3 linked regions of the Homo sapiens genome follow. The gene in region 1 interacts genetically with each later gene. Each region holds a gene or a part of one and is shown in the gene's direction. Other genes may lie near its edges. The genes, in order: CDC6, TOP3A and TOP2A.

What was found.
Region 2: changes in CDC6 (region 1) and TOP3A are lethal when combined (synthetic lethality), as found in Homo sapiens cells (one large-scale study listed by BioGRID).
Region 3: changes in CDC6 (region 1) and TOP2A are lethal when combined (synthetic lethality), as found in Homo sapiens cells (one large-scale study listed by BioGRID).

What each region holds. Positions count from the first base shown.
Region 1 is NC_000017.11:40,297,790-40,301,443, forward strand, and holds part of CDC6 (cell division control protein 6 homolog), read left to right. Parts: intron 1-3,038; coding exon 3,039-3,241; intron 3,242-3,654. UniProt on the Homo sapiens protein: Involved in the initiation of DNA replication. Also participates in checkpoint controls that ensure DNA replication is completed before mitosis is initiated.
Region 2 is NC_000017.11:18,270,774-18,273,961, reverse strand, and holds the end of TOP3A (DNA topoisomerase 3-alpha), read left to right. Parts: 3' UTR 1-2,534; downstream 2,535-3,188. UniProt on the Homo sapiens protein: Releases the supercoiling and torsional tension of DNA introduced during the DNA replication and transcription by transiently cleaving and rejoining one strand of the DNA duplex.
Region 3 is NC_000017.11:40,407,829-40,411,482, reverse strand, and holds part of TOP2A (DNA topoisomerase 2-alpha), read left to right. Parts: intron 1-27; coding exon 28-129; intron 130-236; coding exon 237-374; intron 375-2,852; coding exon 2,853-2,991; intron 2,992-3,358; coding exon 3,359-3,516; intron 3,517-3,654. UniProt on the Homo sapiens protein: Key decatenating enzyme that alters DNA topology by binding to two double-stranded DNA molecules, generating a double-stranded break in one of the strands, passing the intact strand through the broken strand, and religating the broken strand.

The sequences.
Region 1 (3,654 bases):
ATTATAAGTTCAACTTGGGATATCTCAAGCTTTTAAACAAGTCTAGAGGGTAGAGGTAAAAAGATCATACTGCTACAGTAAGCTGCATGGTATCACAAATGACAAAATTAATATTCCATTCCCTCAGCCTTGTTTTGGTTGTGGCAAATGTAAAATGGCCATGAACTACGTATCTTACAGTATTTGATATCCAGTGTTAGTCTTTATAAACAGAATAGTAAGATTTGATTGTTTCTTTTTCACTCCTACACTGGCTGGGAGTTTAAGTAAAATTGTTTCTGGCATTATAGTTCTGCATGAAATTCTTTCTTTTTTTCATCAATTTGCTAAAATAAAATAATTAAAAATGTTTCAGAAGTAGCCAAAAATAGTGCTTAGGCTAATAGTAGGCAATATATACCAATGTATAGACTTAGATACTGGTTTCTTCCTCCTTTTCAACTTTTCAGATTATCCCCTTTTCCTCCTCCTTTTTCCCCATCAGTAACATTTAGGCTTGTCACTGGCCCCTGTGAGCACCACTAACACAAACATAATTCAAAAAGGTAAAGAGGTTGTAAGTTCTATCTTTTGACTTCTGGTTTGTGCGGGATTGGCTTTTTTCTTTCTTTTTTTTTTTTCTTTTTGTGTAAAACAAGGTCTTGCTTTGTCTCCCAGGCTGGAGTCCAGTGGTGCAATTATGGCTGGTGCGATCATGGCTCACTGCAGCTGCAACCTCCCAGGCCCAAGCAGTCCTCTCACCTCAGCCTCCCCAGCTCCAGCTACTGCTAATTTTAAAATTTTTGTAGAGTCAGTGGGTGGAGGAGTCTCCTTATGTTGCCCAGGCTGGTCTCAAACTCCTGGGATAAAGTGATTCTCCTGCCTCAGCCTCCCACAGCTTTGGAATTACAGGCATGAGCCACCATACCAGGTTGAGATTGGCTTTCAAGGGCTCCAGAAAGCTATAGGGAGAATGACTTTAACTAAATATAAGAAGAAAATTTATAATAACTAGAACTAACTGGGCTTCCTTGAAACATAGTGGGTTCTCCAGCATTGAAGATATTCAGACAAAAGCTGGATAGATGCCACTTGTTGAGATTGTTCTAGAGAGGACTCGGCCAGTGGATAGGGAGTAAAAATAGACTTCTAAATTCCTTTCAATTTTAAGATTCTTTTACTTGATCTGTGATCTCCGGTTTCTCCATTAGTCCTCTGCAGCATCCCTTTGTGGTAATGTAATATTATAGAAGTAAATTGTTGTGGGGCAACTGCAAGTGATTTCAGGAAGTAACTTCAGGTAAAGGTTGTTACAGAACACATTTCTTTGTCTTGGAATTCATGCATCTCCAAACGATAAGGCCATAGTCTTTTTTTTTTTTTTTTTTTTTTTTTTTTGAGACAGGGTCTCGCTCTGTCACCAGGCTGGAGTGCAGTGGCGTGATCTTGGCTCAATGCAACCTCCTCCTCCCAGGCTCAAGCCATCCTCCCACCCCAGCCTCCTGAGTAGCTGGGACCACAGGCACACACCACCACACCCGGCTGTTTTTTTTGTATTTTTAGTAGCGATGGGGGAAACCCATCGCCTTGTTGCACAGGCTGGTCATGAATTCCTGAGCTCAAGCCATTAGTTATTTTTCCTGATCCTCTCCCTCCACCCTCCTATAGGCCCCAGTGTGTGTTGTCCCCACTATGTGTCTATGTGTTCTCATCATTTAGCTCCCACTTAGAAGTGAGAACATGTGGTATTTGGTTTTCTGTTCCTACAGTAGTTTGCTAAGGATATAGTCTTATGAAGCTTATTGGCAGTTTCCCAACCCCTGGCTTTTATTAAGATGATGATATCTGGCCAGGCATGGTGGCTTACGCCCATAATCCCAGTGCTTTGGGAGGCCGAGGAGGGCAGATTGCTTTGAGCTAAGGAGTTCAAGACCAGCCTGGGCAACATGATGAAACCCCATCTCTACAAAAAATACCAAAAAGAAAAAAAAAAAAAAAAAGATGGTGCTATCTGCTAGCATATCCAATGACATTTTCTCAAGTGTTGCTCTACTGCTAATCAGCTTGGGCAAGTGAACCAAACCTCAAAGGTCATTTGGGGAAGCCATCTGAAGGGCTGACATGGCAGCGACTTCACTCTCCACATTTAGCCACTCATTTGATCCAAAATATTCGGTAATTTTCCAACTTTTTTTTCCCTTTCTTTTTTTTTTATATGGAGTTTCACTCTTGTCGTCCAGGCTGGAGTGCAGTGGCACAATCTTGGCTCACTGCACCTCTGCCTCCCGGGTTCAAGTGATTCTTCTGCCTCAACCTCCCAAGTAGCTGGGATTACAGGCGCCTGCCACCACATCCAGCTAATTTTTTGTATTTTTAGTAGAGATGGAGTTTCGCCGTGTTGGGCAGGCTGGTCTCCAACTCCTGACCTCAGGTGATCTGCCCGCCTTGATCTCCCAAAGTGCTGGGATTACAGGCGTGAGCCACTGCACCTGGCCTTTTTTTTCCTTTCTTAATTACCAAGCACAGTCACCATCTTTGCTTCAAGGTTCTGTTATTCTATACCTCTGAGATACTAGGAACTAGCCTGGCATGGTGGCACGTACCTGTAATCCTAGCTACACAGGAGGCTGAGGCAGGAGGATCACTTGAACCCAGGAAGCCAAGGCTGCAGTGAGCCATGATAGTGCCACTGTACTCCAGCCTGAGTGACAGAGATCCTGTCCCAAAAAAAAATACAGTAGTTCTCTGGTCCTTTCATGAGGTGGGTTTTGTTCCTCTGACATTAAATTACATTCCATAGGACAAAACAGCTCACTATTTGGCCCAGAGAAAGGGTAACCCTACTTTTCAAGTCATCCCACATTATTTTGACATCCTTAAGAGAATAGCATTATCTCTCATCCTTTGGCCTCTGGTTAGAGATTTAAAACCTCTGCTTTGCCACCATGTGACTATACTTGAATTTCCTTTAGCTCAAACTTAGTATCATCTGTCTCATCATACATACACACACACAGTATTTTAGAAATCGAATTAAGCTTGGCTTATTTACTTTATAGGTAAATCACCTTCTGAGCCTCTGATTCCCAAGAGGGTTGGTCTTATTCACATATCCCAAGTCATCTCAGAAGTTGATGGTAACAGGATGACCTTGAGCCAAGAAGGAGCACAAGATTCCTTCCCTCTTCAGCAGAAGATCTTGGTTTGCTCTTTGATGCTCTTGATCAGGCAGTTGAAAATCAAAGAGGTCACTCTGGGGAAGGTAAGTTGGGATGGAGCAGATGGAACGGAGGTAGAGATCAGAATCTGCTTTGCAGAGCAGGTATTTTCCAAAAGGCCTATGATACTTCAGCTGATAATAAATTTAAAATGGATTTTAACAGTAAGAATTAATACTGGTACTATATAAAAGGCACCTATTTCCCTTGGATTGTGGTTGAGAGTTTATCATTAATCCTTTCCCTATCCTCCCCTTCATTTCTGCATCTCTCTAGGAAATATATAAAGCCCCTTTCCTACATTACTGTATAGGTTTTCGGGAATATCTACAGAAGCCTGTTCAAAGATTTTATTGAAAAGAGGAAGAAATAGGGTATTCAGATAAGTTTTTGCAAACCCAGACTCAGGTTTCTTAAATGATTAAAGGCTATAAGCAATGTGACTTTTAAGCAGCGT
Region 2 (3,188 bases), about 22 Mb from region 1:
AAATTTAAAAATTTAAAAAAATAAAAAGAATCCAACCCCGGCAGGGCGTGGAGGCTCACACCTGTAATCCAGCACTTAGGGAGGCCAAGGCTGGAGGATTGCTTGAGATCAGGAGTTCAAGACCAGCCTGGGCAACATAGTTAGACCTTGTCTCTATTTTTAAAAATATAACAAGCACAGTTGTACACGTCTTTAGTTCAGCTGCTCAGGAGGCTGAAGTGGGAGGATCCTTTGAACCCAAGAGTTTGAGGCTGCAGCAAGCCATGATCACACCACTGCACTCCAGCCTGGGTGACAGAGTAAGACCCTGTCTCAAACTTTTTTTAAAATGAAAGAATCCAACCTTTTTTTACTCTGACCTGCGAGAGTGCAGAGGGTCTGGGGAACATTTGCAGAAGCAACAGGTACCAGCCAGTGCTGGAAGGAGCTCACCCTGGGAGGTCTCGTCAGCCTCTGTCCTTCATGGCTGTCCCTTGTGTCCCATGTGGAGAGCCCTTCCTCCCTTTCCACATGGTAAGCACTGAGCCCAATTTCTTCTCACCCCACAGATGGTCCCTCAGAGCAGAGATGTCTAATGAAAGGTTCAGATTCAGATCACTAACTTTCCATCTTCCACTTTTTCCAGTGGTGGCCATGTTCCCCCGTTTGCCTTCACAAAAACCTTGTGAATAATACAAGCCATATGGACTCTGATTTACAGTTTAGAAGATGAGCAGAGGTGGGTGTGAGTTGCCCAGTCATGTTGCTAGTTGTTGAAGAAACTAGGATTGTTCTCAGGTCTTGGGCTCCTGGCCCATAGACCAGTGGCTCTGTGTTCTGATGGGGTATTGGGGAGGATTTTTACAAATGCAGGTTCCTGAGATTGTTCCTGGAACATCTCCGAGTGGGTGTGGGTTGTGGCCCTGCGTGTGTGATTTTGCCTATCCCAGCTCCGGGGTACCACCAACCACTTTTTGTCTCTGTGGGTTTACCTACTCTGGATATTTTGTTTAAATGGAATCATACCAGGCTGGGCACAGTGGCTCACGCCTGTAATCCTAGCACTTTGGGAGGCCAAGGTGGGCAGATCACCTGAGGTCAGGAGTTCGAGACCAGCCTGACCAATATGATGAAACCCCGTCTCTAAAAAAATACAAAAATTAGCCGGGCGTGGTGTCAGGCACCTGTAATCCCAGCTACTCAGGAAGCAGAGGTTGCAGTGAGCTGAGATCGGGCCATTGCACTCCAGCCTGGGCAAAAAGAGTGAAACTCTGTCTCAAGAAAAAAAAAAAAATGAAATCCTACCATACATGACATCCTGTGTCTGGTTTCTTTGACTTGGCTGATGTTTGTCAGGCTCATCCACATTGTAGCATGTCAGTCCTCGATGTTTATGATAAGCTGATAGCCCACTGTATGAATATACCACACGATTATCCATTTGTCAGTTGATGGACATTGGGTTGTTTCCACTTTTTGGCTATTGTGAATAGCACTGTTGTGAACATTGGTGTATGAGTGTCTGATGACTTGTTTTCAGTTATTTTGGGCATATGCCGAGGAATGGAATTGTAGTTTTATACCATAACTCCATGTTTTGACTTTTTGAGGAACCTACAAATTTTCCACAGTGGATGCACCACTTTACACCCACCAGCAGCACACCAGGGTTACTGCTTCTCCATATCCTTGTGAACACTTGTTCCTTTCCTTTTCTTGTATTATAGCCATCCTAGTGTTTTGTCATCCTAGTGGGTATGAAGTGGCGTGTCATTGTGGTTTTGTTTTGCATTTTCCTAGTCATTAATGACATTGACCATCTTTCCACAGGCTTACTGGCCATTGGTATACATTCTTTGGAGAATGTCGATTTAAGTTCTTCACCCATTTTTTATTTTTTATTTTTTATTTTTTTTTGAGATGGAGTTTCGCTCTTGTGCCCAGGCTGGAGTGCAGTGGTGCGATCTTGGCTCACTGCAACCTCTGCCTCCTGGGTTCAAGCAGTTCTCCTGCCTCAGCCTCCCAAGTAGCTGGAATTACAGGCATCTGCCTCCACACCCAGCTAATTTGTTTAGTATTTTTAGTAAAGACGGGGTTTCACCATGTTGGCCAGGCTGGTCTCAAACTCGTGACCTCAGGTGATCTACCAGCCTCGGCCTCCCAAAGTGCTAGGATTAACAGGCAGGAGCCATCACACCTGGTCTCTTCCCCCATTTTTAAATTGTGTTGTCTGTCTTTGTTGTTGAGTTGTAGGAGTTCTTAATAGTTTCTGGATATCAGATGCCTTTGTGGTTTTCACATCTCTGCAGGCAACTGTGTGTCTCAAAAGCAAACTGCAGGATTGGGCTGCACCATGGACTGGGCCAGGCATCTGAGATCAGACAGACCCAGGCTCAGCTCCCACTTCCTGGCCTCTTCTGCCACCCTGGGTGTGCAGCCTCATCCTTGGAGCCCCAGTTGCCTCATCCGTAATGGGGTGTCCTTGTTCATATTGAGGCTCTCTAGTGAAGGCTTACGGTCAGGCACGACTGCAAATTAAAGCTTCACAAATCAAACCTGTTGGAATTTCTAAGTCTCTCTCGATGGCCCACTCAGGTTAGCAGCATGCAGCTCATCCTACCCCGTCAACGTTGACTGGAAGGGTTTTTAGTCCCTGTGTTGAGCCACATCTGCAGCTTGTGCAATGCAAAACCAAGGAAAAGAAAATGGACCCCCCCCGCCCCCCCCTTGATGGATCTAGCTGAGACTAGGCACTGGCCAGGCTGTCACCTACAGTGGTTTCAACCTCCTGCTGCCAGCAAGACAGCATCTCCTGTCCTTTTTGTGCAGGAACCATAGCTCTGTTGGGTTAAGTGTTTTCCTCTACCAAGCAGCTAACCTGGCCTTGAAACCTAATCTCTGATGCCATGTCCCCCCAAGCCCCATCAGAGTTTTGTAAAAAGCCCCTCCCTGCTCTCCACACCAATGCTGAGAGCCCATGGGGTAACTGGAGGCTTCCCTGCCATCTTGGCAAAGAAGCCTGGCTGACGTCCTGCACATGCTTCCCCAGGTGATTGCTTGCACTTAACAGCAGAGGAAACGAGACCACCCCACACAACTTGTAGCAGTTGAGGAGTCTCTGCCTGATCCCACCCCGGATACTTAGAGCATCCAGAATTAAAAATAAGCCTTGTCACCAACATCCGGCTCCCCCACTCCCCAGAGCCAGG
Region 3 (3,654 bases), 110 kb from region 1:
TTACAGTTTGGTATTTTTCCTTATTAGGGTGGCAGACATGTTGATTATGTAGCTGATCAGATTGTGACTAAACTTGTTGATGTTGTGAAGAAGAAGAACAAGGGTGGTGTTGCAGTAAAAGCACATCAGGTATGTGCTTTTGGCAGTTTTCTTTTTCTAAAGTCAAGGAAGAAGAGAAAGGCTATAAATAAAGCATGAGTACATTTTTAGTGGCTTAATATCAACTTCTATTGCAGGTGAAAAATCACATGTGGATTTTTGTAAATGCCTTAATTGAAAACCCAACCTTTGACTCTCAGACAAAAGAAAACATGACTTTACAACCCAAGAGCTTTGGATCAACATGCCAATTGAGTGAAAAATTTATCAAAGCTGTGAGTACTTAGAGGAAAATAAAAATAGAAACACCTGACTTTATTTTCCATTGCACTTCTTAGCTCTGCAGAAACAATGATTCTTCTCATAGTGAGCTTCTCCAAGTCTTCCCAATCTGAAAAGGAAGTAAAAAAGGGCTTTACTTTAACTGATTTACCAAAGACTTAATGACCGTCTATATTTCAGTATTTCCCAATTACATTTTACCATTAAGCTTAGATCACTTTTGAATTAATCTAGCTGTTTAACAAACACCCTCACTTAAATGCCTAAGACTTGCTTTCAGTCAACACATCCAAAATTGAATTTGTTACCTCCATACTCACTGATTTGCCCATACAAGCAGCCCCCCACTCTCCAACAAAAAAACAACTTCCTATCTTAGTAAAAAGCCCCAACCAACCTCTAGGTTGTATAAACAAGAAAGCTGGGAGCCTTCCTTTATTTCCCCTCCTCTCTAATCCGGTCAATAAGAATCATCTCTTGGATGCTGCAGTAGCTTCTCACCATTATCTCTTTTTTGGTTTACTACAATAGGTTCTTAACCTTCATACTGGTTAAGTCCTTTCCTTGGAATGCTTTTGAGTGACTTTTGTGTTAAAACACCCATTTTTATCTTCACTCTCATTTGAAATCTTTCAATGACTTCCACTCAGGGAAAGTCCAAATTCCATAATTTGGCCAACAAGAAAGATCTGCTGTAATCTAATTACACCTACTTCTCCAACTCATCTCAGTGCCAGTTTTTCGTATATTGTCCTGTTGCTTTTAAATTACTGAAAAGCACAGTGCTCTTCCCCTCCTCAGAGTTTATTCACATGCTAATCCCTCTGCATGAAATACATCCTTTTCACCTGGCTACTTTAGGTCTTGTCCTTTCCTCAGGAAAGCCTTTACTTTCTACCCTTCCCCCCACCTAAGTTGGTTCCAATATAATATTGAACATACCTTATTAGCAAACTTTTTGCTTATCCATAACACTTATAACACTGTAACTTATTTTATTTCTGTCTTTTTTTTTAGGCAGAGTCTCGCTCTGTCGCCCAGGCTGGAATGCAGTGGCACGATCTCGGCTCACTGCAACCTCCGCCTCCTAGGTTTCAGTGATTCTCTTGCCTCAGCCTCCCGAGTAGCTGAGATTACAGGCATGCATCACCATGCCTGGCTAATTTTTTTGTTGTTGTATTTTCAGTAGAGACAGGGTTTCACCATGTTGGTCAGGCTGGTCTCAAACTCCTGACCTCAAATGATCCACCCATCTCGGCCTTCCAAAGTGTTGGGATTACAGCCATGAGCCACTGTGCCCAGTCTTTTTTTTTTTTTTTTTTGAGACAGAGTCTTGCTGTGTTGCCCAGGCTACAGTGCAGTGACGTAATCCTGGCTCATTGCAATCTCTGCCTCCCAGGTTCAAGCGATTCTCCTTGCCTCCTGAGTAGCTGGGATTCTCCAGCCTCCTGAGTAGCGGGGATTACAGACATGCACCATCACATCCAGCTAATTTTTGTATTTTTAATAGAGATGGGGTTTTACCATGTTGGCCAGGCTGGTCTTGAACTCCTGGCCTCACTTGATCCACCATCCTCGGCCTCCTAAAGTGCTGTGATTACAGGCGTAAGCCACTGCACCCAGCTATGTCTGTCTTCTATGTTGTGTCTTAAACTTGATGAGGACAAGTGTCTCAATTTGTTTTATTTGTGTCTAATTTTATTTATTTATTTTTAATTTTTTTTTTTGGAGACAGCTTCTCACTGTTTCCCAGGCTGGAGTGCCGTGGCTTGATCTCAGTTCACTGCAACCCGCGCCTCCCAGGTTAAAGCAATTCTCCTGCCTCAGCCTCCCAAGCAGCTAGGATTACAGCCATTTCACCACCACCATGCCTGGCTACCCTTTTTTTTTTTTTTTTTTTTTTTTTTGAGACGGAGTTTCACTTTTGTCACCCAGGCTGGAGTGCAATGGTGCGATCTTGGCTCGCTGCAACCTCTACCTCCTGGGTTCAAGCGATTCTCCTGCCTCAGCCTCCCGAGTAGCTGGAATTACAGGTGCCCACCACCACGCCAGCTAATTTTTGTATTTTTAGTAGAGCCGGGGTTTCGCCATGTTGGCCAGGCCGGTCTCAAACTCCTGACCTCAGGTGTTCTGCCCACCTTGGCCTCCTAAAGTGCTGGGATTATAGGCGTGAGCCACCGTGCCTGGTCTAATTTGTTTTAACCACTATATCTCCAACAAGTAGCTCAGTGCTAGCACAATATAATTATATAGTAAATATTTATTGAACGAATGAACCAAAAGGAGCAGCTCCCTCAGTGGTGATAACCTGACATGGGAAGATGTGCCACCCTCTATCCAGAAATTATTGTTCTACATCTTTTTAATTTTTGAATCATTTTTATTTGTATTAAGGCTCATTTGTATTCTAGATTTCTGATAGATCCCTTCTTCCCTAATATGATCCCTAATATGAATCTTCTCGTTTTCAGGCCATTGGCTGTGGTATTGTAGAAAGCATACTAAACTGGGTGAAGTTTAAGGCCCAAGTCCAGTTAAACAAGAAGTGTTCAGCTGTAAAACATAATAGAATCAAGGGAATTCCCAAACTCGATGATGCCAATGATGCAGGTATATATTTAATAATGTTTCCAAACTTTTAAGTCTTATAGTTGTTATTTTATTCATTAATGGCATACCACGGATATTTATTTTTCCCTTGACAGAATAACTATATTCAACAGAATAACTTGTTAAAAATCGGCCCGTTTCCTATTATGGAAGATTTAGGTCATTTCCATGTTATAAATAATATTGAGGTGATTATTTTGGAGTATAAAACAAGAATGTTTATATTATGATCTATTACCTAACAAATAATTTTGCTCATTATATAGTAAATTGTGTTTTATCACAAGGCTATAAACAGCATGTTCAAGTTAGTATATTTGAGGTTGAACTAAATGTGCTAATATTAATATGTATATTTTTATTTTAGGGGGCCGAAACTCCACTGAGTGTACGCTTATCCTGACTGAGGGAGATTCAGCCAAAACTTTGGCTGTTTCAGGCCTTGGTGTGGTTGGGAGAGACAAATATGGGGTTTTCCCTCTTAGAGGAAAAATACTCAATGTTCGAGAAGCTTCTCATAAGCAGGTAGAATATAAGACGATCTTCAGAATCTAAATCTAATTTATAATACAAGACTTTATGCTTATATTTAATTCCCTCATTAGGCATTTTAAAATATATTTTAGACAATTTGTGCTTATTTTGAGAAATTAGGTACATTGT